4 separate regions of the Homo sapiens genome follow, and regions 2, 3 and 4 are each linked to region 1. The links come from fine-mapping of genetic effects on gene expression. A gene starts in region 1. Each other region holds a variant in brackets. All regions are shown on one strand. Distances are from middle to middle. Region 1 holds the start of SLK (STE20 like kinase). Region 2 overlaps COL17A1 (collagen type XVII alpha 1 chain). Region 3 overlaps SORCS3 (sortilin related VPS10 domain containing receptor 3). Region 4 overlaps STN1 (STN1 subunit of CST complex).

Region 1 (7,656 bases):
CCCAGGCTCATGTGCAGTGGCACGATCGTGTCTCACTGCAGCCTTGACCTCCTGGGCTCAAGTGATCCTCCCTCCCGTCTCAGTCTCTCATGTAGCTGGGACTACAGGTATGAGCCACCATGTTTGGCTAATTTTTTTATTTTTTGTAGAAATGAGGGTCTCACTATATTGCCCAGGCTGGTCTGGAACTCCTGGGCTCAAGCAAACCTGCTGGCTCAGTCTCCCAAAGCGCTGAGATTAGAGGCATGAGCCACCATGTTTGGCCACCAATCTTTTTAGAGGCCAGTTAGGCAATACAGAGCAAAAACATTTTTAATATGATCTTTGACTCATCAATTCCACTTCTTGAATTGTGTCTTCAGGGAATATAATCAGACAAATACACAAAGATGCTTGTATATGCACACTAACTGTGGAATTGTTTATGATGACAAAAAAATTGGAAACTACCTAGATGCCTGTCATGCCTGTCAATACAGAAATGCTTAAATAAATTATGGTATAGTTAGACACTAGAACTCTGTGCAGCTATTAAAAAAGGATTAGACAGATCTATTTGGGATGGCTTGGAAAGATGTCAACGATCTGTATTGGATGATGCCAGTTTTATATCTTAACAGATATACATGCGGCCAGGTGCAGTGGCTAACACCTGTAATCCCAGCACTTCGGGAGGCCGAGGTGGGCAGAATACTTGAGGTCAGGAGTTTAGGGCCAGCCTGGCCAACATGGCAAAACCCTGTCTCTACTAAAAATACAAAAAATTAGCCGGGCTTGGTGGTGTGCGCCTGTGATCCCAGCTACTCAAGAGGCTGAGGAGGAGAATTGCTTGAACCCAGGTGGTGGAGGTTGCAGTGAGCCGAGATCACACCACTGCACTCCAGCCTTGGCGACAGACGGAAACTTCATCTTAAAAAATATATATATATATATATTTATATATATATATATATACACACATACACATACATACACACAGAAAAAAACATATATAGGCCTAACTTTTTCAAAGTAGCTTTATTGAGGTATAATTTACAAAGCATATAATTCACCCATTCTAAGTGTAAAATCATCACCATAATCTAGTTATAAAACCCTTTTTTATTGTCCCCCAAAATTCTCTCATGCTCATGGGCTTAACTTTTTTTATTTGGCCATGTATTATGTTATTAAAAGGAAAAGCTTTTACAAGAGGCTCATTTCCATTTCTTTTTTTCATAATATATGAAAAAATTTATGATAATATTTCTATTTCTTTTTTTTTTTTTTTGAGACAGGGTCTAGCTCTGTCGCCCAGGTGAAGTGCAGTGGCACGATCTCAGGTCACTGCAACCTCCGCCTCCCAGGTTCAAGCGATTCTCCTGCCTCAGCCTCCCGAGTAGCTGGGATTACAGATGCATGACACCACACCCGGCTAATTTTTGTATTTTTGTTAGAGACGGGGTATTGCCATGTTGGCCATGCTCATCTCAAACTCCTGACCTGAGGTGATCCACCCACCTCAGCCTCTCAAATTGCTGGGATTACAGGTGTGAGCCCCCGTGCCCAGCCTATTTCTATTTCTTAATGGTGTCAGAACTTTATCTTTGCTTTGCTAGTGACTTTTTAAAAACCACTTATTGAATTATGATTGACATACAATAAGCTGCTCATACTTAATGTATATAACTAGATGAGCTGGGTGATAACTGTACATCACCACTGCCTATTACATAAACATATCCATCATCACAGGCTTAACTTTTAACAGTGGTTAGGTCGAGGGTAACTATGAGTAGGGGGGAAGGAAGGAGGACAGAACTATAGACAGCTTCCTAGTTTATAATTTCTGTATTATTTGAATTATTTACAACAAAAATATACTATCTTTCATTTTTATTTTTTCTTCGAGACAAGTTCTAGCTCTGTTGCCCAGGCTGACGTGCAGTGGCACAAACATGGCTCACTGCAGCCTCATCCTCTTGGGCCCAAGTGATCCTCCTGCCTCAGCCTCCCCAGTAGCTGAGACCACAGGTGAGTGCCACCATGCCCAGCTAATTTTTCTGTTTTTAATTTTTGGTAGATGTGATCTCGCCATGTTGCCCAGTCTGGTCTCAAATTCCTGGGCTCAAGAAATCCTCCCACCTCAGCCTGGGATTATAGGTGTGAGCCACCCCACCCAGCCAGTAATACACTATCTTTTAATTGACAAAATAGTAAAGTCTTTTCTATTTTGAAAAGAACAAAATAAGGAAACAGACATATACCCATTGACCGAAATCTACTTTTGGCAATTTATCCTAAGGAAATAATCAAATATGTGGAAAAAGATTTGTGTACAAAGATATTTATCCGTATTTTATTAAAAACAGAGGAATTATAATCTAAATATCTCATAATGGAAGAGAACAATTATTAATTGTATTGAAATATGCGAAGTGCAGGATGCAAACCTTTTTATGTAATACAACCTCAACCATGTTGAAAAAAGTTAATGCACAACCAAAAAAATCCTGTTTTGAAATATAAGTTCTTATCAATGGTTGTGTCTGGATAGTAGAATTATAGTACTTTTAATTTAATTTTATTTTTTAAGCATTTCATTTTCTCCATAAATGATAATAATTACAAATAATTATAGTATTGTTTTCACAGGTCTATACATTTGTCAAAACATATAAAAGTGCACACTTGCAGCAAACCACCATGGCACGTGTATACCTATGTAACAAACCTGCACGTTCTGCATGTGTATCCCAGAACTTAAAGTATAATTTTAAAAAAAAGCAAACAAGTACTAGCAAAAAAACCAAATGCACACTTTAAATATGTACAGTTTATTGTATATCAATATATTGCAATAACACTTAAAAAAATAGAAGGATCTCAAGGAATTGAATCATCTTAAGCGTCTTACTGGAAGGGGGGTTTTGCTATGCCATTTTGGGGCTGAAGGGCAAAATGACTGGGGGGGCAGACATTATATAAATAGCAATATATACATACATTGTCTCTGCTCCAGATACCGCCATTCATTCATTCATTCACCAGATCTGCCTTCCTATTATATGCCAGGAATGTTGCCGGGTACTTGGATATCTTGATGAACAACAAACCACTGGCCTGAAAGAGCTCCCGTCTGGTGGAGGAGGGGAAGGTAGGTCACCACCTGACGGATTCCAGCCAACGTCCACACTGCCCCACCAGGGAGTGCTGCCCAAGGGGGCTGGAGGCAGATCAGGAAGTGGGGGCCTTAGCTGAGGTGGAGTCACCAAGAGTGACACCAGGTTTACAGTTGTGGAGGTGGCCAGAAGTTAGTTTTACCCTCAAGGGAGTGTCGCAGTCATCAGTTGAGAAGTGGGGGCCCGGCGCGGTGGCTCACGCCAGTACTTTGGGAGGCCGAGGCGGGCGGATCACGAGGTCAGGAGATCGAGACCATCCTGGCTAACACGGTGAAACCCCGTCTCTACTAAAAATACAAAAAAATTAGCGGGGCGTGGTGGCGGGCGCCTGTAGTCCCAGCTACTCGGGAGGCTGAGGCAGGAGAATAGCGTGAAGCCGGGAGGCGGAGCTTGCGGTGAGCCTAGTTCGCGCCACTGCACTCCAGCCTGGGCGACAGATCGAGACTCCGTCTCAAAAAAAAAAAAAAAAAAAAAAAAAGAAAGAAAGAAAAAAAAGAGAAGTGGTCTTAAACAGTTTTTATGTATCTGTGTCTATCTTGCCTGCACACTTAAAACAACAAGAGTAAGAACTAAGATTGAGCGTTTACGGGTGCAGGGGCCGCGCAAAGGGCTTCCATCTATTGTCTCATTCACAACCTTCTGGTAGGGACTATTAGGATCTTCATTTTACGGCGAGGAAACCGAGGCTCGGAGAGGTCACCTGCCCAAGGTCACAGATCTCTCTCTCCAAAGCTCAAGCTCACAACCACCACACAAACTCCCCTCTCACTGTACCTGGGGCCCGTCTGAGAGCGAAAAAGTCCGCTTTCAGGTCCCAACCCTAACAGGTCCGGCTTTCACTCCACAGTTTTTCCCAGATCCAGAATGGAGACAACATCCGCTAGCACAATCAACAGGGTCGTCCCACGGGGGCCGCTCCATCAAGGCCGTGGACTGACAGGATTTGGGGCTTGGAGGGCAAATGAGAAACAATCGTCAGGGACCGAAGAACAAATGCGTCCATCACACCAGCCCCCCGCACCCCGAGCCCCGTGCTCCGCTCACGCGAACCCTCGGGGGCAGCCAGTCTGAGGGACGTAGCGCGCGTGCGCGGGGCCAGAGGGGACGCCCCCACGCGAGCGCGCGGTGAGCAGGGCGCGTGACCGGGCGGGCGCGCAGCCGGGAAAGCGCGCGGGCGCGCTACGGAGTCGGCGTCGGCGCGCGCTCCAGGCCGAGGCTGTGTGGGCTGGGGAGGGAGACAGGCGGCGGCGGCGGCGCCCCAGACCCGAGGGGACGCGCGGGCCTTGCGCCGCGGGAGCGGACGGCGGCGGAGGAGACCCTAGGCTCGCGGCCCGAGGCGGGAGGGCTCGGCTTCTCGACTGCCCGCCTCCGAGGCCGCCGGCCGCTTCTCTCTCCCAGAGTGGCCGCCGCCCCTGGAGACTCGCCGTGACACGGGCCTAAGCCGCCGCCGCGGGAGTCCTGACCGCTCGGACCCGTCGGATCAGGCCGGGTGGGAGCGAGCTTGCGGGCAGGTGCCGCTCCCGGAGGGTGGGCCGGAGGCGAGGCGCCCACCGCGCGGCTCGCGGGCCGGGCTCGGCGGAGGGGCCGCTCGCGCAGCACCCCCACCGCGGGCCGGAGCCCGGGTCGCCGCCCCGCCTTCTCCCGGGACCGCCCGGCCGGAGCTGCGGGGGCCGAGGGACGCCGCGCCCGCCGCCGCCAGCCGGGCTCGCGCGGGAGAGCAGGGAAGAGAAACTTTGCCTTTTATTGTTTTTAGTCCTTAAGTGCAAGGAACTCTGTGTTGGGAGGAAAAATGTCCTTCTTCAATTTCCGTAAGATCTTCAAGTTGGGGAGCGAGAAGAAGAAGAAGCAGTACGAACACGTGAAGAGGGACCTGAACCCCGAAGACTTTTGGGAGATTATAGGAGAACTGGGCGACGGAGCCTTTGGGAAAGTGTACAAGGTAAGAGGGGGAAAACGGGAAGTTGTACTGCGAAGGTAAAACAGCCACTGGCCTGGAGTGGCGGGAGGACTTCTGCTCCCCTGGTCCTTATCCTGTCCTTCTTTTGACTGTTACGGTTCGATGCAACTTTACTTGGCTGATCATCCAAGGAGTAGCTAAGAAGTCGGGTTTACGGTGGAACAAAATGGGGCCTGGATGGAGTTTAAAGAGCGATTGGAAAAGGAGACAGGGTTATAAAGTCTACTCTTTCAAACTTCAAAGGAAATGAGAGTGTTCTTTAATTTATAGGAGGGGTCTGGTTGTGCCCTTCAAGTATTTTAGAATGAGAAACTCATTGCACTTTGCAGTGGATTTGTCTACTGACTGCATTCGCGTGCATGCTTGTACTCCAACAGTTCTGTTTTTAGGGTCCAGTATATATATTTGGTTGTATCTAGAGCTAATACAGAACTAGTTGGGATCAAAGTGATTGCTACTTGCAGTCTCTTCTTGAGTTAGTTGCTTGACAGCATACTATAAAATAGAATGGAATTTCTGACAAAATTTCCAAAAAACCTTCATGTGGTACTAGTTTTAAATATATTTATGGTAAGCATTGACTAGAAGTCAGTATCAGCGCTTAAGCAGTTAAAAACACACACGCATGTATTTATTTCAATAGAAAGAGGCTTGGCGTTTCAACCTGAAGGCATTAATGTTAACTATTTAATATCTCCTAAGGAACATATGAATGATGTCATTGGAGTATTTTCATCCTGAAGGGCGAATTTTTTATGAGACAGCGTTTAGGGGAAGGACCCACAGGGTTGCCTAGAAGTGAAAACGTAAGAAAATAACTTATGTTTATACAGGACTTTGAAGTTTTTAAGTACTTTCAAATAATTTGGCCCCCACAAAAATCTTGTGAGGTAGGCAGGTCAGTATTAGTATCCACATTTCACAGATGAAGATATTGAAATTGTTCACAGTCACATGAGTCTCAGCCTAGACTTGAACTCAGGTCTTCTGAGCCCATATTTAGTATTGTTTTTTATTTTAACAGTCACTGGTAGAAATGAGAGCATTTTGCCTACTACTTTCTTTTTTTTTTGAGACGGAGTTTCGCCCCTTTTGCCCAGGCTGGAGTGCAATAGCGCGATCTCGGCTCACTGCAACCTCCCCCTCCCGGGTTCAAGCGATTCTCCTGCCTCAGCCTCCCGTAGTAGCTGGGTTTACAGGCATACGCCACCATGCCCGGCTAATTTTGTATTTTTAGTAGAGACAGGGTTTCTCCATGTTGGTCAGGCTGGTCTTGAACTCCCGACCTCAGGTGATCCGCCCGCCTCGGCCTCCCAAAGTGCTAGGATTACAGGCGTGAGCCACCGTCCCCGGCTGCCTACTACTTTCTAAGCACCATTACACTTCTGCCTCTGCCCTGCCTCAAATGCATCTTGTCAAAACCCCAGTCCTCATTCTTTATCCAGGCTAAAATATCTACTCCTCTCTGTGTGCTTTCAGAACACGTTGTTCACATGGCTATTATAGCACTTGTCACTTATTACAATTAATATGTTTATGTTTCTATAATAAAATTAAGGGCCAAAATTATGATACATATTTGGGTTCATTCACTGCCTTAGCGTATAGTGATGTGTCTGTTTATTTGTTGAAATGAAAGAATGTGTTTTGTCTGCATATGAATGCTGTCGTGGAAGCTATCATAGGCTGTGGAAGTTGGCAAAATAAGCTTTGTTATTTGTGTGGAGGGTAGAGTATGGGCTTCAGCAAGAGCTTCATAAGATGCAAGGCTTCATTGTAGTGGGAAGATCACTCCTGGGAATCAAGAGTTGTGTTTTAGTGCTGGCTGTCACAAACCAGCGTTGTAATCCTGGACAAAACACTTAACTTCTCTGGACCTCCGTTTTCTTAGCCATAATATTAACTTTCTTAGGAGTTTAGATTCTTTCACCCATTAAAGTTCTGTGAGTATGTAATTAGCCTGGAAAGGCAAAAATAAATGCTCAAGGCACCTAGAATCTTGTAGTTAGAAGGTGGTAGGTGATTATGGGCAGTTTTCATGGTGTAAATAAGTTTTATCGAATATAAACAGCTTAGTAGTAAGAGCACTGGCTCTGGAGTTGGAATATAACTTAGCTCTCTCACTCAATAGCAGCATATGACCTTGAGCAAGTTTCTTATTTGTCCTGTGCCTAACTTTGCTCATCCATAAGACATCCTCAGTGTGAGGATTGAAAAAGATAATATAAGGCACATGGAAAGGGCTCAGTAAATGGTAGAAATTACTGTTATTACATTTAGAGCTCATAGATGCAAACTTTGGGATGAGATAGGGAAAGGAACCAAGAAGATAATAAACCATTTTGTTGGTTTCTAATGGCATGGGCAGACTGTGTGGAGATACTAAAGCCCTGTGTTATTCTTTCATGACACTTTCTGCAAAATGTGATCTATCTTCCTGTACTGAGACATTAATTGAAAAATTTCTGAAGAACAAGAGTCTTATTTCATGTAGTTATTTGAGCACTATAAAATTGTGTCAAGGAGAATTTCTGTGAT
Region 2 (6,872 bases), 67 kb after region 1:
TTGATGAAGACTTTGGGTATCTTAGGTAGATCTAGTAACAAGGAAAAAACTCCTATGTCTTGATTAATCAAGATAAGGATCACTATTAAAGGGGATATAATACTTGAACCCCTAAAGCTACTTTTTTTTAAAGGGTCAAAACATCTTTTTCCCCCCTTTTTTTGGAAGTTACTTTTAATAAGTGTAAAAGCTACAATTAAAAAGTAAAAAATTCAGCCTTTGGGTAAAACTAATGAATTCTTTTGAAAAAAAATTATTTAAAAAGCACAATTCCTTTATTATACACAATAGTTTTGCTTAGTAAAACTCAAGTTGTTTGAAATCTGGAGGCTGTATGAACTAATTTTTATTTTATTTTTGTTTTATTTTTTGAGATGGAGTCTTGCCGGCTGGAGTGCAGTGGCACGTTCTCAGCTCACTGCAACCTTCACCTCCTGGGTTCAAGTGATTCTTCAGCCTCAGCCTCCCGAGTAGCTGGGATCACAGGTGCCCGCCACCATGCCGGCTAATTTTTTTGTATTTTTAGTAGAGATGGGGTTTTGCCATGTTGCTCAGGCTGGTCTCGAACTCCTGGGCTTAAGCAATCTGCCCGCCTCGGCCTCCCGAAATTCTGGGATTACAGGCATGAGCCACCGCGCCCAGCCTTATTTTTAAAAAATTCTCATTAATTCATAGCAGGCAATTATCAGGATATAATAAAAGAGGCAAAAAGACCACGTAGAGTGTGTAGTGCTTGACTGGTTGTTGCCGTTAGCGGTTGTTTGATATAGAGGAAACAAGTGGAGTGTTTTTTCTGGGATAATATGAGATACTCAGCAGAGACCTTATGGAAAATAAAGTCTTTTTAGAAGAGTAGTGGTGTAGAAATAGATGCAATTTAATCCCATTTTTAATTATCCAGCAATTTGAGAGTCACAACTTGTAACAAATTCACAAAGTGGCTAAGTAGAGTCTCTTCTCAATTGGAGTGTCTGATTTTACTGTGCATTTCTTTGGGGCATTTGAGATTTGTACATTTTTCTTTAATAGAAGTTTCTATATTCCATATATTACTTGCCCTACAATCATAATTCCATTGCCCCAGGATAAAGCACTACCTAATTGCAAGTAATCTTCTTGCTCATTTGTTGCATGTTTATTTCAAATAACTTATGCTTGGGGAAAACTTTCATGTGCTTTGTAAAATCCCCAGATTGAGTTCATAGTTGCAGGTATCTAAAGATTTGCCTTTGAAGACCTCAGGGATTGAATGAAATACCAGAAGCTATGCCCCAAAATACAACCACTTTTGTTTTCTTGTGTTTGTAATAAACAGTGTTAGAATCAGACCCAATTAACCCAGACTATTTTTTAATCTTTCTTTGGTCAGACGAATCACATTAAACATGATATTAGAAAAAAAAACTTCTTTAATGGGAAATTTTACGATTGAAATGATGTTTCATCTTATAGACCACAAACAAATGTTTTTAGACATTGAAAAGTGGTTAAAGACCAACTGCGCCCAGTCCCCCAAGTGCCATTTTCTGAGTGCAGAATGGAGGGTGACGTCTTGAGCTGATGCTGTGTCCCCAGCATCAGGTTTTCTGTTTTCCCTCTTCTCCCTTTATTCCTTCCTTGTCCATTGCCCTCAACCTTCTTTTTCTGTTTGCTCTGGCCTGGTTCAGTATAACATATCCATGAACTCTAGTATGGGCCTACGGACAATCATAGCTACAATCAGACTTTCTAAGCAAATGGGAATGTGATATACATATAACCATTAGAAACCCTATCATCACCTCCTAGAGGGGAAGTGAATTTCTTAATTTTTTTAGTTGCAAGAGTCACTTCTTAGCCAACTGACTAGAGAATGCAGAATGAACAGGGGAGGAAGGAGCTGATGGCACAGCCTTAGAACAGTAACCAGAACACACCCCCATCAAGTGTCACCTCCAGGAAGGCGCCCCACCCCCATCCTCCGTTTTCTGGGCTCATATTTAGGTAAAGCTCTAAGACTCCTGAGCCAACTTTTATGTAACTGGCTTTCCTAGGCTGGGGCTTGAACTAAGTAAAGAAGCCAAGGAGTTCAGATCTAGATAGCAGAGAAGTAAGTCTCATTCTAAAACATTGCAACTACTGTTAGAGTCCACCCCATGAAGCTGTTTCAGATTGTGTATCTTTGACTGAATTCTATAAGTATATATTGTTCAGACTAAAACAAATGTTGCTAGCTAGGTTGGCTGTGCTGTCTCAGTAGGACATTGACAGACTCCAGCTTTCACCCTCTGGAGACCTTGGACCTAAGTGCCACATGCATTATGAGACCTGGTCCAGGAGCTGTCCTGCCATGGCTAGCTCACGGCTTGACAGCAATACTTCTTCTCCTTCTCCGCCCAGCATAGACTTGGTCACCTGAAAGTTAGAAGATCAGTAGGAAGTTAAAACATATCTTGTGGCCTGTGGGGATCTTGGCTTGGGCAATTATGGCAACCGTGACTACTGCAAAGATGGCTTCAAAGGTGAAATCTTTTGTAAGACTACATTTATTTAACTTGTTTGCCCCATTTCAACACCAGCTTGGTTCTCCTTTTCCTCCCTGCTTTGACACTCTCCTTTTCTTCCTCACTGTGAATGGGATTGTTATGCAAATTCTGCTTTTGGCAGTGTCTGCCTGGAGTAATTGGCATTTGCCTGAATTTCTCAGGCTTGCTCTGGAACAAATCACCTGCTTCTCTAATGAGCGTCAGCCTTGCAGCCCTCCAGAACATGCAAAACGTGGAGCAGTCAACACTTACCTTTGTCTCCTTTTTCTCCCTTGTGTCCTCGAGGGCCAGGTGGCCCAGGATGACCTGGTGGCCCAGCAGGGCCCCTGTCACCTGGAAGGAAAAATGGGGCGTAACTAAGTAATACATGAGTCTGGGGACTGAGGGCACAGGTAGCCGGTGTGGCACCAGCACAGGAGCTGCTTTTCAGTACGAGGTGGGTGTTAACACAGGATCCAGGGACTGGCTCTCTGCCACCACTTACCTTTGGGTCCTGGAGTGCCCATCTCTCCTTTTTGCCCAGGGGGTCCTTGAATGGCTCCATAAGCTGCAAAAGCAAGGAAACACTGGCCTTAGAGTCTTGATCACCTGGAAGCTTGGGACATCAAGTCATTTGTTCAGAGTAACACAGAGAGATAGTGATGGAGTTTGGACGTGTAAGAGGAAACAAAGTTCAGAATTTATAGAATTTGTCTAATTTTGAGCATCTCAAATGTTAATAACTGGAGATTTCTCATGAGACTGGTGTCTCTGGAGCAGACCCGTGGGAACCTATGCAGTGAGGCAGGTGCTGGGAAAGCAGTTGGATGCCCTTACTTTGGAAGAAGTCCATGAGGTCCGCAGTCACGTTGCTGTAGGCAGAGAAGACCTTGCTGATGCCGGGTGGCCCCTGTGGCCCAGGCTGGCCTGGTGGGCCCTGGACAGTGTAGGCCATCCCTTGCAGTAGGCCCTGACCTGTAAAACACCAGAGCTTGGGCACAGGAAGCAGGGATCTCCCAGTACCCTCTTCAGCAGGAGCACAGTGCCCTCCGAGTGTCAAACTCCCAAAGCAGTTGAACTAGATCAAGCCGCAGCAAGGGTGAAGCCCTCCAACTTCCTTTGTATTCCACTGTGTGACTGGCACAGGTCTCTTCCTGCTGTGGGCCGGCATCAAAAGCTTGTTGACTGCGTAACTGTGCCGTTAAGCTGC[G/A]CGGGGAAAGGACTCTTAGCCAACATCCTTCTCTCGGCCCCAGCAGAAAATCCAGCATGGTCATATGACTCATCTGGGACCCAGAACGAGCTAGGTGTTGGGAAAACAAAGTACAAAGCCCCCAGCGTGCTCTGTTCCCCACAGCTCGGGTCCCAGGACTGGGGCTCCTTAAGCTGAGTAGGCTGAGAGCTAGGCTGGGGCTGCCTGTCCCCTCCAGCCCCTGCCTGCTTGATTCTGTCTTCACAGCCTGGGGGTTCCACAAACAAGAAAGCCAGTCTGGAGATGCTCCCACGCTCCTTCCCCCCAGCACCAAGGCCTAAATGTCCCCACTTACGCTGCATGCTCTCTGACACCCTCACAGCCAGCTCATTGTAATCCAGATCTCCAGCAAAGTCAGCTCCCAATAGTCCGCCATTGCCAGCATACATGCCGCCTTCTGCTGCTGCCCCATAGCCTCCGCCTGGGCCGATGTCAGTGCCATAGGGACCCCTGTCTCCTGCAGCTTCACCAAAGGCACCGCCTGCACCCAGGGAGCCTGCACCACCTCCTCCTGTGCTCATGGAAGAGCTGTAGGAGCTGCCCCGCCTGACAGATGAGCTGTGTGAGGAGGAGCTGCTACCCCGACTGTGGGAGGCATCCGTGGACAGGAGGCGGCTGTCCCCAGGGGGTCCCTGCGGCCCAGGAGGGCCTGGGGGGCCAACAATGAAGCTGCGCACATCAGGACCTGCAGGGTGAGAAGCTGCATGAGTGGGAGCTCAGATCTCGGTGGAGAGAAAGACTTGGGAGTTAGGGAGTCTCTCCCAGGGTGTCAATGCCCCTGAGAGACCAGAAGTGAACTTCAGGGTTCTTGTACCCGAGTGGGAGAATTTTGGTGTGGAAGGAAACCGGGCTTACCCCACCAGTGGCTCTCGTGTGGCCTTCCTGTCCCTTTAAGTGCCTCCCTGCCCCACTTACAGGGAAAAGCAAGGCCTGCGGGGTGCCTGGTGGGGCATCACCGTCGGGGCACCTACTTGTGAGGTAGCTGATCAGCTCGCTCCGGAAGCTGTCGCTGTTTTCAGCTGCATAGGTTGCCAGGGCTCCTGAGACACCCGGGGGCCCTCGAGGCCCTGGGGGACCAGGAGGTCCTGGAGGGCCTGGGATGAATGACAAGCCGGCAGCTGGGCAGAAGGAAGAGAAAGAAAGGTCGGGGTAGTGCTGCGGAGGAAGCTGAATTCCCAGCCTGTGCTCGGGGCGCTGTGGGCCCCACCTGAAAGGAGGGGATGAGGCTGGGCCTCCCGGGTGATGGGAGGAGAGAAAAGCAGGAGGCCAGAGCCTGCTGTTTCCTGACATCATCCAGGAATGGCTGTTCCCGTCAGGCTCTCCCACTCCCAATTCTGAGCCTCATTCAACTCAGCCCTCCAGTCACTGAGAGGTGGAGCCCCAGGTCGGCCCTAATCACACACCGGGCTGCGCCTGGGAAAGCCATCTCTCCCCACCTCTGTCCCTGCCACGGCTGAAGGCCCCTTGCCAGCACATGTGGCGCTCTCCAGGGCCCTGCACCCAGCACTGTACAGGCTCCAGGAGCACTTAGACTGCCCTTGCTAAAGCCCATGGGAGCCCCCAAGGCCCGGCTGCATCCCCTGCCCTCCCCATCCCACTCCACAGTGCCCTACTATGTAAGTAAGACGAGAGGTCCTCCACGCTGATGCTGGACCACACATTGCCTGGGATCCCTGGTGGACCCGGGGGACCTGGGGGTCCAACGATGCCTCTGAATTCAGACCCTGAGACACCAAGGGAGGGCACGGAGTCAGTCCTGGCCTGGGCCAAGGGACTCTGCTTCCTCCCCAACCAGTTGGACAGATGTCCCCTGCTGGGCCTTACCTCGCAGCAAGGAGAGGAGCTCCTCATAGGAGGTTCCCGGCAAGCCAGGGGGCCCCGGGGGACCAGGAAGCCCAATGCTGATCCCAGAACCTAGGGAGGTGATGGATTCAGATCAGGCAGGGGGAGGCAGATGGAAACACCTGTCAGAGAGGAGGTCGGATACAGAAGAGGTTTGGACAGAAGTGGGGTCCAAGAAAGAAAAGAGATGGTGGCAGGAAGAGAGGCAGAGAGGAGGAGCCCAAAGGAGGAACGGAGGGGCCCACGGGGCCGGAGAAGCAGGTCCAGTGTGCCTGTGTGCTTCATTCTGTGTGTGTGTGTGTATGAGTATGTGTGTATGGGAGTGAGTGTGTGTGTGTATGGGAGTGTATCGGAGTGTGCGTATGGGAGTGTATGGGAGTGTGCGTGAGTACTGGAGTGTATGGGAGCGTGTGTATGGGAGTGTGTATGAGTGTGTGTGTATGGGAGTGTATGGGAGTGTGAGTACAGGAGTATGGGAGTGTGTTTATGGGAATGCGTGTGTGTATGCATATGTGAGTGTGTATGGGTGTGTCTGAGTATGGAAGTGTGTGTATAGGAGTGTGTGTATGGGAGTATGTGTATGGGAGTGTGTATGGGAGTGTGTGTGTATGGGAGTGTGTGTGTATGGGAGTGTGTGTATATGTGTGTGTATGGGTGTATGGGAGTGTGAGTATGGGTGTGTGTGTATGGAAGTGAGTGTGTGTGTGTATGGGAGTGTGAGTATGGGTGTGTGTGTATGGGAGTGTGTGTGAGAGAGAGAGAGTTGTATGTAGACTCCACACGAGACAGTGCCTGAGACCCCCGTTTTGGCTTTCCTTGCCATGCTTCTTGACCTGCTCCAGGCTCACAGGTTTGAACGGCTCTGAGCACTGCTCATTGCTGGGGTTGGTGCAGTCTGGCAGGTGGGGGTCAGTGGGGCAATCACAGGGAAGTTCACGCTGCGAGTCCTCATCCCAGTCATCCCAGGCCCTTCCCAACCACCCCTCCTGCAGACACTTACTCGACATGTAGCTGAGAATGCGACTACTCAGCTCTGCATAGTCCAAAGACAGGAGGGACCCATCTCCACTGGCTCCTGGTGGCCCTGGCGGACCCCGAGGGCCCATCAAGTACTGACGTAGGTACTGACGCACGTCATCCCCTGGAGAGGAGAGGATGCACTAGCAGGACCCACCCAGGCCATGGGGGTCGCAGCCATGATCCAGCCACAGCCTGGGCTCCCCTGCACAAACTGGCTCCTGCGTGACATTTGTGAGTTCTGGGTCCGCAGGACCACG
Region 3 (7,656 bases), 740 kb after region 1:
ATTTAATGAGATCTAGACCATTTTACAAGGCATGCTGGGTTTCCATTTATTGTAGTACTGCATTCAATGTGTGCATTTCTCTGATTTTTCTTTCAAAATAGAATGAAAAAACTTTGTTTTCTGTAGCTTTCTCACTGATTGCTAATCCTAAGTGCAGTGGTAATGAAGGGTGTAGCTGTCTGGTTCAAGAGTTCAGGCAAGAGTAGATATTATTGACAAGAGGCTTCTAAGCAGGTATCAAGTATTGAATAAATTTGTTTTGTGATTTTTTTTTCGGTATTGGGTAGAAAAATTATCCTTTCCAGCACTCTGAACATCAGTAATATTTTATTTAATTTTGGCTGCTATTGTTGATGCTCATGTTGTTATTATGTGAGTTTGTGTGAGGAGCTGGTAAATTTCTTTTGTAAAAGGGCATATTGTAAATATTTTGGTTTTGTGGGCCACCGGGTGAGCTACTGGACTCTGCTATTGTGTGAAAGCAACCATACACAATGCATACATGAATGGGTGGGCCTGTGTTCCAATAAAGCTTTATTTACTGAAACAGATGGAGGGTCAGACTTGGCTCATGGGCAGTAGTGTGCAGACTGCTGGTGTATACAGTCTGTTGGATTCTGTCTATGCGGACCGCTGTGTTTGAGCACAATGGAAACACACTGTGTTTTCATATGGTTTCTGCAGCTGCCATCCAGTTCCCTTCCTTTTCCCTTCAGAACTGTGTTACAGGATACAATTAATATCACTATTACTTTTTGAGACCTAGTCTCTCTTTGTCGCCCAGGCTGCAGTTCAGTGGCACGATTTCAGCTCACTGCAACCTCTGCCTCCCAAGTTAAAGTGATTCTGCTGCCTCAGCCTCCTGAGTAGCTGGGAATACAGGTACCTGCCCACCACCATGCCTGGCAAATTTTTATGTTTTCAGTAGAGATGGGGTTTCACCATGTTGGCCAGGCTGGTCTTAAACTCCTGACCTCAAGTGATCCGCTTGCCTTGGCCTTCCAAAGTGCTGGAATTACAGGCGTGAACCACCGTGCCTGGCAGGATACAGTTTTTAAGTGATGTTTCCAAGAGCTCCATTTCCAATGTTTGCATTTTCATCTTAAGAGCTATGAACCTTGGACTGTACTCAGGGGCCTGATTTTAGTTCTTCAGAAGCAAAGACTGTAAAAATCTTCCTGTTCTGGTGCTGGGGTTCAGGTACATGGTCTAGTGAAATGGCACTAGACAAATGATAATAGAGTGCTAGACTGGGTGACCCTGAGCAAACCACTTAATCTCACTGAGTCTGGTTTCAACTATACGAATATCTAGCTTGCTCATTCCACAGGGTTGTTGTGAGGATCATTCATTCATTCAGTTTCTCTTTAGTGAGCACATACTTCCTGCCCTGGCTTTTGCTAGGCATTGGAGAAATAATGGCAAACAAAACAGGGAAAGGCCTACCCTTATAGAGCTTACTTTCAAGTGATCAAATTTGTTGATGTAAGGGAGAGAACACTTCAAATCGATTGATTATACAAGAAGTTAGATTTTCCTGACCATTTTAAACAAATAGCATCCCAAAGTCCAAGGGAAATTTTGGTCATTTTATTAAGAAGTTGAAGTCTCAAGAAAGCCAGTTGGATGGCAGTTTAGATAAAATGATTCGGGTTGAGGGCCAGGGCAGGGAAAGAATGAAAACCAAGTTTAAAAGTGGCCTGATAGGTCAAATGGTATTTCTGGTTCTAGATCCTCGAGGAATCGCCATACTGTCTTCCACAATGGTTGAACTAATTTATGTTCCCAACAACAGTGTACAAGCATTCCTATTTCTGCACAGCCTCGCCAGCATCTATTGTTTCCTGAATTTTTAATAATTGCCATTCTGACTGGTGTGAGATGGTATGTCATTGTGGTTTTGATTTGCATTTCTCTGATGATCAGTGCCATCATCCTCAGCAAACTAACACAGGAACAGAAAACCAAACACTGCATGTTCTCACTCATAAGTAGGAGTTGAACATTGAAAACACATGGACACAGAGAGGGAAACAATACACCGGGGCCTGCTGGAGGGTGGGGGGTGAGGGGAGGGAACTTAGAGGATGGGTAAATAGGTGCATCAAACCACCATGTCACACGTATACCTATGTAACAAACCTGCACATTCTGCACATGTATCCTGTTTTTTTTTTTTTTTTTAAGAAGAAATGAAGAAAAAAAAAAGTGGCCTTATAGAGCTGCTTTCTACTAAAGTTCACTTCTGAAAGAAATCAGAGAGGTTTTCGACTCCATCAGGGTTCCAAACCTGAGGAGATTACCATTAAAGTCAGCTAGTCAAGGGTAAAAATTAGAGTGTAGGAGGATTCATTTTGAAACATTGTCAGCAACCAGCTGGAAAAAAATAGCAGCGACTGTGATTACTAGGAAATTTCTTGGAGGGTGTAGAAGTGTATCAGGTAATCTAATCTGTCACCTACTTCAGTGGCCTTTGGGTGGTTGGATAAGCATTTCAGTTTAGAAGTAAATATCACTGAACAGGAGGGAGAATAACATGGTTATTTAAAACTCTGAGGCCTTTTGGCCAGTTTTGGATTTGTTGTCAGCCAGACCTGATAGCTCATCCAAGTTTCCTTCTATGACTTTTTTTTTTTTTTTTTAGACAGGGTCTCTCACTGTCGCCCAGGCTGGAGTGCAGTGGCACGATCATGGCTTAGTGCAGCCTTGACTTCCTAGACTCAAGTGATCCTCCCACCTCAGCTTACTGAGTTGCTGGGACTACAGGTGTGCACCACCATGCCCAGCTATTTTTGTTTGTTTGTTTTAATTTTTTAGGGACGATATCTCCCTATGTTGCCCAGGCTAGTCTCAAACTCCTGGGCTCAAGCAATCCTCTGGCTTCAGCCTCCCAAAAAGCTGGGATTACAGGAATGAGTCACCATGCCCCAGCTGACTTCTACAGGTTCAACTACAATATTTACAGAGGGAGATCTTTGGGTCCTGGGTGAGGAGGGAAACTGGGGATGGGGTAGGGATGGGTAAAGGGGTCAACAAATTAGAGGCAGACCTGCTTACAGCCTTCTGAAGATAGACTTTCTGCAGAATGAATGTGAAAAGGTTTTGTAAAGTGTAATGGACCAATTTTTCCCTAGTACTCTAGGGAATGTGTGTTCCATCCATGCAGATCCTTGCATCGTGCCTGTAAAATAGCAAACATGCAAGCAACTGTGGAAAGGATCATCTTTGCCATCTTATGTTCAGTGTTCCAGCCATACCAACTCATTTGCAGATCCCCAAATGCACTATGTGCCTTTATAGATGCTGTTTTGGTGCTTGGCCTACTCTCCCCCTCTACTTTGCCTTGCTAGCTCTTGCATCCTCTTTAAGAGTGTACACAGGTGCCCTTTCCTTCCTGGAGGTTTTCTTCTCTCCTCCTCCACCACAAGTCTGGTTCAAATGCTCCACCTTAACCCCCTCTTCCCTCATTTCCCAACCCCAGATATGTCTATTATAGCCCATGTCTCAATAAATTGTAGTCATTTGTATTTTATGGTGGAGACCAATTCTTGGTAATTGAAAAATTTGTCTGAACTTTAGGGGAATCATTAAAAAATACATAATGCCCTGGACATATTATTTTAACTTAAAGTTTAGAGATGTGTATTTATTTGCTCATCTTTTGATATGGGCAGGCCTTC[GT/G]TTTTTTTTTTTTTTTTTTAATTGGTCTGCTGATTAGAGTTCCGGATTATCTTTCTTGTTTAACTCACATCCATAATACATCATCTATGATTTCCAGTGCCCGATTTTTTTTTTCATGGAATAGAAACCAACTGGGAAAGCAATTTAAAGACTCTAGATTCTCCCTACTCCCAGTATTTTATACTTTTCCCACTCACACCGAATTAGGTTCAACTACATTTTTAAGTGACTTACCTTTATCAGGTCTTTGCAAAACATTTAACTAAACTTTGACAGAAGCTTTTATTGGTACTCATCTTCTGTTGATTTACATATTACTTAATTAAACAATGTAATTATAATGACATGTAATGACAATGATAAATGGTTTTGAGAATGGACACGGTTGGCTCCTGTAAACACATACCTCAGTTGTGGGAGAAGCAGTGCTTGTGTATATGAGAATGGAATAACAGGTGACCCGACTGGTAGGAGTAGCATGAAGTAGGCATCAGAAGCAATGGAGAATCCCAGTTAATCCAGCAGCTCAGTGGAGCACAAGTTAAGGGAGCAACATAGATTGAGCTAGCCCAGTGCCTGTTCGAGTGGATATTCAATAATTTGTTAAATAAATGTGAGAATGATCCAGGAAGTCGAGAACTTCTGGGGATATGAGCTTCAGGACCACTGGATTTGAACTCGTAATTGGCCATCTCCTCTACCTAGAGGGGTGCTGGGCCCGAGTCAAAAGCCTAGAACTTAACCACTGTCTGCAAAATGAGACTGTGAAGAGAAATCTCTCTCCAATAACAGGGTGCAGATTTCTTGCCGAGGCTGCTAGCTGTTGCTGACGAGTGAGTATGAAAGTCTCCCTCCTTGCTCCCTGGATGACCTCTTTGCCATTCCTTCTTGTTTAAGCTCCTCTTCTTTGGCTCTGAAACCTGTGAAATGTTTGGAGACTAGAGTTTCTTTTGTTTGTTTGTTTCTTTTCTTCTTCTTTTTTTTTTTTTTTTTTTTTTTTTGAGAAGGAGTCTTGCTCTGTGGCCAGACTGGAGTGCAGTGGCACCATCTCAGCTCACTGCACCCTCTGCCTCCCGGGTTCAAGCGATTCTCCTGTCTCAGCCTCCGGAGTAGCTGGGGACTACAGGCGTGCACCACCACGCCCAGGTGATTTTTGTATTTTTAGTAGAGACAGGCTTTCACCATGTTGGCCAGGATGGTCTCCATCTCTTGACCTCGTGATCCGCCCACCTCGGCCTCCCAAAGTGCTGGGATTACAGGCGTGAGCCACTGTGCCCGGGCCAGAGACTAGAGTTTCTTGAGAGATATACTACTGAAAGAAGCTATCTGTATTAAAATTCAGTATGTGTAAACTACTTTAATGAACCTGGTTCCACCGTAGCATATGGGAAGTCAGATGGTAAGGGGTGCGATGTATGCATCAGTGTCCCTCTCCTGGTATAGTCCCACTTCCCTGTGGATAAATTTACCTTACCTATAGGGAGGCACTCACAAGAAGCTTATGCACACACACATACACATATGTACATTTATGTGTTTTATTTATACCTACATAAACATGTATATGCACACATACATAATGTATACATGTACATCTATAAGCTATAGGTCTATAATGACTTTTTCTTCTAAACGTGAGAAGAAAAATGATTTTTTCTTTTAAACGTAAGTGTGGGCACGTGGAAGATTGCTGTGGTTGCAAGGTCAGCTCTTGCAATCTAGGGACTGTGGAGAGAGACAGAGACTAAAGTTTTTCATATGTGTGTGGTATTGGAGTGGGGGTTGCTTAAATTAATAAGTTAATGGAGAGAAGTGTGAGCTATCTGAGGCATCGCATAGAGACAGGGCAGTCAGGCTTATCCACAAGAAGGAGCAGTGGGAATTGAGTCCAAGAGCCAGAAAAACATACTGATGTAGTGGCTAAGAGCACGTTTCCTAGTTTCAAATAGTTGTGGGTACAAAATCTGGCTCTGCTACTTACTAGCTGTATATCTAGGCAACTTACCTTAGTGTTTCATGGTTTAGTCCATAAGAAAGAGAATAATAGGACTTCCTTCACAGAGCTGGTATGATAATTAGATTTTATATGTAAAGTAATATACATAGTGTCAGCCATTCAGTAAGATACTTAAAAATGTGATATTCTTATAAATATTAATTGTATCTGGGGACAGCACAGGAACCTGCTATGGGGGCACTTTTTGGTAGTAATTGAGATCTAAAGACCCTCACTGAACCAGACTCTCTGATTAACACTGAGTAGTAAAGTGTAGTTCCAGGTACTTTGGGGCTAGGGGGAATCAACGAAGTAGATTTCAGGACCACCACAATGCAGGTTTGCATATAATAGGAGAGAGGTGGCCAACATCCATAGAAGGAGGACCTGAATCACATTCAAGGAAAATATATAAATGAATATCAACGATGAGATCCTATCCCATGCAGGGGTTGAGATACCCTGGGCAGTTTGTTTCACCTGCCTTTAATCACTGAGATTAACACTCAAAGGCTGAGAGCTAGTTAAAATGTATCTGCCTCCTGCCTATTTCCGAAACCAGAATAGAATGCCTGTTGCTTCCCTTCCCCCATCCCCAGCCCACTCCAAGCCTGTTCTTTATCCCTTATATTAGGAAGGATTTGCCCATGACAGTCTTGAGACCTAATGTCAGATACACTTGGGATGCAGATCTTTTATTGAAGAGAAGGTTGGACTTGACAGTGAGAGGGGTTGAGATGAATGAGTTTCCATTGTATTTATAGAAACTCAGTGCAATATCTCTCAAGGTATAAATAGAACAATGAAGTGTTGACAAAGGGGCTGGTTTTCTGTAACTGTGGAAACCCTGCAATTATTCCTGGAACTACACTCATTGTTTATCTGCATCTGAATTTTAATAAACAGGGCTCTTGCTGCTTATTCATGAATTTTCAAATGGAAATATCTCTCCCATTATTATCCCCTTCTTGTGAGTCAGGCCCCATCTTGCAAATTTGCAGCTGAGTAAATATACGGAACATTAGCAGCAATTAGATAATTGGTGCCCCGGATCAGCCCACCCACAGCTGTGAATGAATATGGGCTGCATGAGTGTCACCTGGTGCAGCCTTCCTGATGGCACTGCATGCCACCACAGTCTTGCAATTAAGCACAGAATTTTACCAGCCTTAGTCCTGGCCCTCCTTTCTCCCAAGAGACCCAGACTAGCAAGGTAAGTGAGGTTCCCTATTCTTCCAGCTGTCATCATACAATGAGAGATGTTAGGCCAAAGAAGTTGGTAAAGAAGAGAAAGTCCATGTATCTTCGCTTAGCTGATTGCTAAATTGCTTCTGATAACTTGTTTGGTGCATATAGCCAGCAAAAATTCATGTTTGGATCTGGGCTGGGGAGTTGGGTCATAAATCCTGTTTTTCTGTAAATCTCCCAAAACTTGCTAGCTCTGGGCTGGCCACATTTCTTCCCCCCCATCATCAGTTTTTTGGCCTCTGGCATTAACTTGGGATTCCTTTTAGCAGCCATATTTTAATCTCTCTTTCCTTTGGATAATATTTCTTCCAGGCCTCAGACTGCACTGGGTGCCTTTGCCAGCTCATGCTTTGCTCCTGTTCCTCAGGCAATCACAAAGCCCTTTTGAGGCATATAGATTTTGTTTTTTAATTGCTAGAGACTTCAGGAAAACAGAGTACTATTGCAAAAGGGAAAGTGGCAAGAGGGCTGCGCCTGCTATTATGACATTATGATGGAGGCTCATTAGCGTGCAGTGGAGCCACTTCTTTTCCTCCTCTGCCTTGGCCACCTGGCCCATCTCCTCGCTTTTGCTTTTGGTTAGACAGCAATTCTGTCTAGCCCTCCAGTCTCTCACACTCATTCTCCAGCCTCACACTCCCTGGAAGCTTTCCCAGGTTACTTCTTTCCTTTTTTATTGCATCCACCTTCTGTGTGTTTGGGAGGAGGCGGGTAGAGAGGGAGTTGGAAAT
Region 4 (7,656 bases), 88 kb before region 1:
TACCTTCTCCACTTAATTAGCACTTTCTTAGAAGCATCCTTAGTTTTTCACATTAATCTGACTGGGGACAGTGTCACTGAACCAGAGCTAAATGGCATCTGGTCTATGAGAGGTCTGAGTCAATAATATGGTGGCTGGTTTTAAAAAGATTGCTGTCCTTTCTTTGCTTGATGACTTGTGATATAGAAAAAAGAAAAATAAATAAAACCATCATTGTTGTAACACATTATTATTTTTAATATTTGGGTGGGCATGTGACCAAGCACTTGGAGTGGCAGGTTTGGAATTTTGAGTTTTGAGTTCTTCCGGATGTTTATTCCAGCTGTGTATTAACTGGCACCTTGGCAGCTGCGCTCTGGGCTGGTTCCGCAGTAGATACCACTGCTAGAACACATGCCTGGCCGTCTGTAGCCCCTGCTGGAAGCAATGGCTACTGTCCAGGGTAGAACTTTATCTAAAGGCTCCCATGATGAACAGATGCTCAACACTACTCATACTAAAAAAACATAAATGCAAACAGAAACCAGAAATCATTTTCACCTATCAGATGGACATGGACTAAAAATACTGATAATACAAACTGTGGGTGAGCTCGTGGGTAAACAGTAGACGCATAAATCATTGATAGGAGTGTACGATGGATCAGTCTTTTTACTGGGTAATTTGTTAGTGCCTATGCAAATTTTAAAAAGCTCATGCCCCTTTTCCTGGCAGTTCCATTGCTAGAAATTTACCATACAAACATACTTTAAACATATACCAAGAAAAGAAAAATGTTTCCTGCAGAATTGGTTGCAATAGCAACAAATTGGAAACCAATTAAATGTTTTTTAATAGGGCCCTGGCTAAGTGCATTATGGAACAGCAATACGATGGAATTATGTCACCATTTTAAAAGATGCTGATTTTGCATGCTAAAGTGAAAAAGAAAAAAAGACTTCCAAAATATAGCATTAATAAAAATGTGAAGTGCATATAAAACGCTGACTTTTTTTTGGAAGGATACACAAAAATATTGTTAACATGGTTATTTTCCTAACAATATATATATAATCTTAAAAATATACACAGTAAGCTGGGCACAGTGGCTCACACCTGTAATCCCAGCACTTTGGGAGGCTGAGGCGGGCCGATCACCTGAGGTCGGGAGTTCGAGACCAGCCTGACCAACATAGAGAAACCCCATCTCTACTAAAAACACAAAATTAGCCGGGCATGGTGGCACATGCCTGAAATCCCAGCTACTCGGGAGGCCGAGGCAGGAGAATTGCTTGAAGCCGGGAGGTGGAGGTTGCGGTGAGGCGAGATCATGCCACTGCACTCCAGCCTGGGCAACAAGAGTAAAACTCCGTCTCTCTCTCTCTCTCTCTCTCTCTCTATATGTATGTATACATACATCACCTAAATATATATACACACACACACACACACACATATATACACACATACTTATATATATAGAGAGAGATATGTATATACACATATATATACACACATACATACACACGGTATTTGGGAAGTGGTAGACCATTCTTTCCCCTTCTTTGTACTTTTTTGGTATTTTTAAGACTAGCTCTTTAAATAATGATGCTGTATTTATATAAAAGCTGAAAGATATCTGTGAGAGACTGTATTTTCCAATGTGGCCAGGGTAATATTCCCGGACCTATATGCCCTTCTGGAACCTCATTACTCCCCATCAAGAGGTGGAGTTTATTCCTCTCCTCTCGAACCTGCATGGGACTGTGATAGCCTCAACAATTAGAAGGCCATGGAAGTGAGGCTGTGGCTTCTGGGGCTACAGAAAAAGGGCCATGTGGCTTCCGTGTGGCTCTTGCTATCTTGCTATCTCTTGGAAAGCCTGCCCTGGAAACCCAGACACCATGATGTGAGGAATCCCAACCTAGCCCATAATTCTGAGTCTGTTCACAGAGTCGTGCACACATCACCACTATCTAATTCCAGAACACGTCCATTAACCCCAAAAGGAGCCCTGTACCACCCAATCCCCACCCTCCCCATGCCTGGCCACACCATCTACTTTTTTTTTTTGAGACAGAGTCTCGCTTTGTCACCCAGGCTGGAGTTCAGTAGCATGACCTTGGCTCACTGCAACCTCTGCCTCCCGGGTTCAAGCAATTCTCCCTGCCTCAGTCTCCCGAGTAGCTGGAATTACAGGTGCCCACCAGCACGCCTGGCTAACTTTTGTACTTTTTAGTTGATACAGGGTTTAGCCATGGCCAGGTTGGTCTTGAACTCCTGACCTCAGGTGATCTGCCCACCTTGGCCTTTGAAAGTGCTGGGATTACAGGCGTGAGCCACTGCACCCAGCCTCATCTACTTCTTCTCTGTGTATGTGCCTATTTTCTGGACATTTTATATAAATGGAATCATACAATATGTGGCCTTTTGTGTCTAGCTTCTTGCACTTAATTTCTTCAAGGTTCACCATGCTTTAGCATATATCAGTACTTCATTGAGTAATATTGCATTGTATGGATAGCCCACCTTTTGTTTATCCATTAATTGGCTGATGGACATTTGGGTTGTTGCTACTTTTTGGTTATTAGGAATAATGCTGCTGTGAACATTTGCTTACAAGTGTTTGTGTGGCCATGTTTTCAATTCTCTTGCGTTGAAGTACTTTTACATCACCTAAATATTAAATGATAAATACATAATAATCAAATGATACTAATAACTGGTACACAATTAATTCTTATTAAAGCAAATTCCCTAAGAGCAGAAACCTGTTCCTTCGTGGTATTTCAGGTTTAATAAAGACCATTGGGTAGACCTGAAGTAATACAACAGCACTATTTCCAACCCAGATTTTTCACCAATTCACACTGACATTTTCTCAAATCAGTCTGAAAAGAGATTGTCTGTTTATTATCTCTATGCAAAAACCCAGGGCTATGCTGTGGTCTTCAAAATCCCTCTTTATGTTCCAAAATGAAAACTTATCATTTAAATTTGACATATAGGAAAGGACTAGAGCCTTTTCAGGAATTTGGAGTTTGATTAGAATTCTGGGGAACACAGAACCTTTTGCTGTACTGTGATTTACCTATTCAGGTTTATTTAATAAATACAGTAGAGGTTAACAGATGATAGTGCAAGTTCAATAGAAGTAGGGTGATTTAAAAACATTCTGGATTACAATGAAAACTCACTTATGTGGGAGTTTGAGCTCACATTTACAGCCTCCACCAGCAGAAATCATGCAAATAAGAACCACTGCAGAGTTCTTTGTCCACAGACACCATCTCCCTTCAGGATGGTCCTGCTTTTCCCCCAGCACCTGTGCAGGCATCTCTGGCGAGCCTTATCACAGTCTTTCTGAGTTTGCCTGTATGCTTCACATAAATGTAGTAAAAAAACAATGAGACGCTTCTTTGGGGCAACTGCTGTAGAGGCCACTAATGAGAAAGTGTAGATGTTTCCATCATGGAAAATTACAAGTTTACTTGGTTTCAGTCCTTGGCACTAAGTCTTAGGTTCCTTGTCACTGAACAGCCTTCTTTCCACTTGGCTTCTCTTGGCCAGCATCCTGGCACACCATCAGAGGAGAAAATAATGAGAAAGAAGTGTCTTACAGGGATGGGGAGCACTGGTGGCTTACCATATGGGCATAATCATGGCTCTTCAAACAAATCCTTGACCAGACAGTAGCACTATTTGTCTTCTTGCCTACACAAGCTACATGTGGGGTTCACACCTCCTGAAACATGTGCACACTAAGAGAACTGGAGAATGTTTGCTCAGTTTCCCTCCTTTTCAGGGGAACCCTCTGGCTGGTCTTCAGTACATGAGCAGTGACCCAGCTGTGGTTAGCTCCAGAGAGTTTTCTAAGAGTCCCTCATGTTCTTAGAGTTCTGATGTTGCTTAGAAGACAGAGGCCTACCTCATTCTTGGTTTACTCATGCTTCAGGTTACATGAATGTGGGGTGGGGAGTGGGAAATAGCTTTATAATTTTTGTAGAAATTATATAAGGAGTCAGGAGTTTGAGACTGCCCGGGCCGAGTCTGGCTTACACACCGGTTGAATTCTTGTCCAGCGCCCAAGAAGAATGAGAATGTACTGACAGTGGAAGAGTGAGCACTTGCTAATTATAAAAATGCCAAAGGATAGCTATGTGGGGTAAAAAGCACCTGAGATCTCACCATGCAGAGGTAACATGTGCATCCCTTTGGTGAGAATTTCTAGTAATCTGTCTGATGTGTATAATTATTCATCCAGCATTTCCCAAATATATTTGTGAACATAGTGTTAGTTTGTGTTCATCCAGGAGCCAATCCTGAGACAGAGACCGGAAAGCAAGAAATGCATCTGGGAGGTCAGCATGTGGTAAAGGGGAGCGGGGAAGTAAGGCAGGGAGGGTGAGGCTGGTGGTTATCAGGTTAGCTGCTCCTGTGGGTGGCTGGGTGGTGCTCAGTCCCACGGAGGAACTGTGGAAAAGAGTATGGAACGTGTGCCTCAGCAATGCTTACCTGAGGGCGAGGGAGCTGGGGCATTTACAGCCAAGGTGCTGTTGGCTGAGGCTGCTCCCTGGGGGTGTGACTTCTGAGCACTTCCAGCCTGCACAGCCTACTAAGACATGTGAGAAAGCACCCCCGCAACCACTGCCCCTAGGAAAGAGGCAGACACTGGCAGCCGGAAGGCAGCCAGACACATACTTATTGGTCGTATTGCTTAGGAGATGCGTCAGGCACTGTTCTAGGTGCTGGGGACATGGAAGGAAACAAAACAGAGAATTCTGCCATCATGGAACATTCTGTCTATTGGGGGAAAATAATAAACAGGGCAAGTAAGAAACCATGGAGTGTGTTAGGCAGTATCAAGTACTGTGAAGAAAAACGAAGTAGGAAAGGGAGTTCTGGGAAGGGGGACAGGAGATGGGTTGCAAACAGCGAAAGAGGAATGAGGGCAGGCCTCACTGAGAAGGTGACACTCAAGTAAAGGCTGGAAAGAGGGCAGAGGGAGGCACTTCACATGGTTACCTGGGAAGAGGAAATAGCAGGAGCACCAGCCCTAAGGCAGGAATATGCCGAGGCATGTGTGCAAGGCCCGTGCGGCTGGGCTGGGAGGGCAGGGTAAGCGGGGCCGTGCTGACCTCTGTGCAGCCTCAGGCTCCTACCTGGGGCAAGACC[G/A]AAGGCTGTAGGAGAGTGGGAGCATTAACAGGGTGGCAACAGCTGCTGTGCTGTGAACAGCCCAAGAGGGGCCAGGGCGGAAGCAGAGAGGACTGAGGAGGCCGGGGAGGAGGGTGAAGCAGTTAAGATTCTGGAGATATTCTGAAGGTAGAGCCAAAAGACTTGCAGACAGATTGGATGTGAGGTATGATAGAAAGAAAGAAGCCAATGGATTTGGTTTGAGCAACTGGATGGAGCTACCTCTTCCTGAATCAGGGACATTTTCCAAAGGAGTGGCACAGGATTTTTTTCTCGGTCACTTTGCAAGCCAGGGACCTCTGGCTGGTGACGGCCCACCTGGGCCTCGCTTGACCATGCTACCTGCTGCAGGAGACGGCCCGCCCACTTCACCCGCCTGGGCCAAGTATGGCTTCCACACTGGTTGAGTTCTTGCCCAGCACCAAAGAAGAATGAGAATGTGCTGACAGTGGAAGAGTGAGCAAAGCTGGGAGTTTTATTGAGTGATGAAACAGTTTTCAACAGAGAGGAGACGTGGGGGTGGTCCCCCTACCCAAAGGCAGGAAAGTCCCCTTAATATGGGGGAGTCTGGGTCTTTTTATGGGCTCAGAATGGGGGGAGGGGCAGGCTGTAGGTATTACTGGAAAAGGCAACATTCGATTGGTTAAGGCGTTATTCAGAAAGAACAATTGGGAAAGGGTGGGCAAACAGGAACAGAAGTTCCCACTCTGCGTGGTGGGTTTCATCCAGGACCAGCAATCTGGTCTTTTAGCCTTCAGGCTGATCTTTGCTTGAACGTGGGGTTTCATTTGGGACCCTCCCCTCTCTGCCTAGGCATTTGGCTGCCTCATGTCACTATCAGGAGCAAGCCTGGGGTCAGGAGTAATTGGGAGCCTGGCTTTGGGCCTGTGAAATCTGAGATGTCCATTAGAGACCTAAGTGGAGATGTCAGTAGCAAACTGAATATAGGGGTCTGCAGTTCAGGGAAGAGGCCCATTCTGGGTTTAAACTGAGGTGTTAGACAGCATGTAGATGGTATAATCCATGTGGCTGCTGGAGACACCCCAGTGAGCAAGCCAGATAGAAAAGAGGTCTGGGACTGAGTCCTCAGGGAGGCAGAGCACTGAACAAAGGAACCTGAGAAGGAGCAACCAGAGAGCTTGGTGTCCTGAAAGCCAAACGCGGAAAGTACTTCCAGGAGAAGGGAGTGGTCGACTGTGTGTGTGTATATATATATATATGTACATGTGCTACATTTATAAAGACCTCCATGCAGAAATATACACTCTCTCTACGGATATATACATACACACAGGGAGCTGTAGATAATGGTGTTATACTATAGAAACAGATCTATAACTCTATCTACTTCCCACTAAATCTACTAGGGACAGTGTGCCATGGCAACACTGTCTGTCTGCTTTCATCATTTTTTTCATAGCTGCATAGTATTTCATTGTGCCCAAGAACCGTAATTAACTTTTTCCCTATAGGTATTTTCCCCAATATAGAATTCTAGATTATACAGCAATGAACACCTTGTGCAACCATCCTTTCACACTTGTGTAGCCATCTCCTTGAGATAAACCCCTAAGAGCAGAGTTGCTATAGGCAAGGGTATGCCCTTTTTACCTTCTGATTCTGAACTCCTTCCTGGGCAGCCCCACTAATCAGATGCATTCAACGTGGAACAGCTGCTGACCTCAAGGAAGAACTGCCCAGGACATCATTCCAGGCAGACTCTATGCTAGGGACCCTTCTGTACACAGAGAAGATGCAGGGCAGCCACTACATAATCACTGTTAGAAATCAGCAAAGGTTTGCATCATTACAAAAGTCTATGACAGGAGGCAATCTACTGGTTCTAGCTCTCAGCCTGACGTATCGAGCTGCAGCGGACTTCTGCGTATAAAGACTGTCCTGTTTCCACGGAGAGAGGAGCAACTCTCCAGGCCTAAAGGATCTCCAGCTGAGCCACGAAGAGCTTATCACATCAAGAGCAAATGCAGCAGACGAAGGCAGTGCCTTCTGTGAAATGACTGTAATTAACTCCAAATCTTTCTCCACACTTTATTTTTGCTGGCTGGATTTGTCATTTTGCTGTCAGAACAGGCCTACAACATACCTCAGATGTTTTTCCTTTACCTTGTCATTCTGAGCAAAAGCATGACTCCATCACCTGTCTGGGCACATACCGAGTCTTTGTCTGGATGGTGTCAGCACATCCTGCACACTCAGCGGCAACCCTGAAAATAACATCTACCACCTGCCAGGCAATTGGCTGACTGCCTCCGTGATCTTCAGGGGCATCGAGGGACAATGTATTTAGTCATGCACCTCTGTAAGTGCAGGGAAATGTACTGGGACACCTTTCGATTCCCAAGGAAATAAAAGGAAAATGACAAACACATAGTCACGCTGTGGATCCCTGTTTATTCCCATCTCTGGGCAGGCCTGTAAAGAGCATCGACCCAGGTCTCAACCCCACTGCTGGTAACTGAGCCA

What was found. PIP is the estimated chance that this variant, and not a neighbour inherited with it, causes the effect.
Region 2: its variant is fine-mapped to the expression of SLK in whole blood (TOPMed, PIP 0.91).
Region 3: its variant is fine-mapped to the expression of SLK in lymphoblastoid cells (TwinsUK, PIP 0.95).
Region 4: its variant is fine-mapped to the expression of SLK in whole blood (TOPMed, PIP above 0.99).

Annotation. Positions count from the first base shown.
Region 1 is chr10:103,962,796-103,970,451 of GRCh38, forward strand. It overlaps SLK (STE20 like kinase), which reads left to right and starts at 4,345. Exons shown (of 19, transcript NM_014720.4): 1 at 4,345-5,100. The coding sequence starts at 4,951. It overlaps LOC102724351 (a long non-coding RNA gene), which reads right to left and starts at 4,250. Exons shown (of 5, transcript XR_007062282.1): 1 at 2,986-4,250. RefSeq lists silencers at 4,207-4,666, 4,707-4,756, 4,767-4,866.
Region 2 is chr10:104,029,897-104,036,768 of GRCh38, forward strand. COL17A1 (collagen type XVII alpha 1 chain) reads right to left here. Exons shown (of 56, transcript NM_000494.4): 48 at 6,596-6,736; 49 at 5,578-5,667; 50 at 5,367-5,477; 51 at 4,725-4,871; 52 at 4,049-4,438; 53 at 3,342-3,479; 54 at 3,010-3,072; 55 at 2,778-2,858; 56 at 1,390-2,394. The coding sequence ends at 2,339. Among named protein-coding and RNA genes, the nearest start is that of MIR936, 15 kb to the right of the region's middle. The variant G/A (reference allele first, on the strand shown) is at 3,715.
Region 3 is chr10:104,701,545-104,709,200 of GRCh38, forward strand. All of the region lies in intron 1 of SORCS3 (sortilin related VPS10 domain containing receptor 3), which reads left to right. Among named protein-coding and RNA genes, the nearest start is that of SORCS3-AS1, 39 kb to the left of the region's middle. The variant GT/G (reference allele first, on the strand shown) is at 3,681.
Region 4 is chr10:103,874,509-103,882,164 of GRCh38, forward strand. STN1 (STN1 subunit of CST complex) reads right to left here. Exons shown (of 10, transcript NM_024928.5): 10 at 3,061-7,656. Among named protein-coding and RNA genes, the nearest start is that of SH3PXD2A, 23 kb to the left of the region's middle. The variant G/A (reference allele first, on the strand shown) is at 5,155.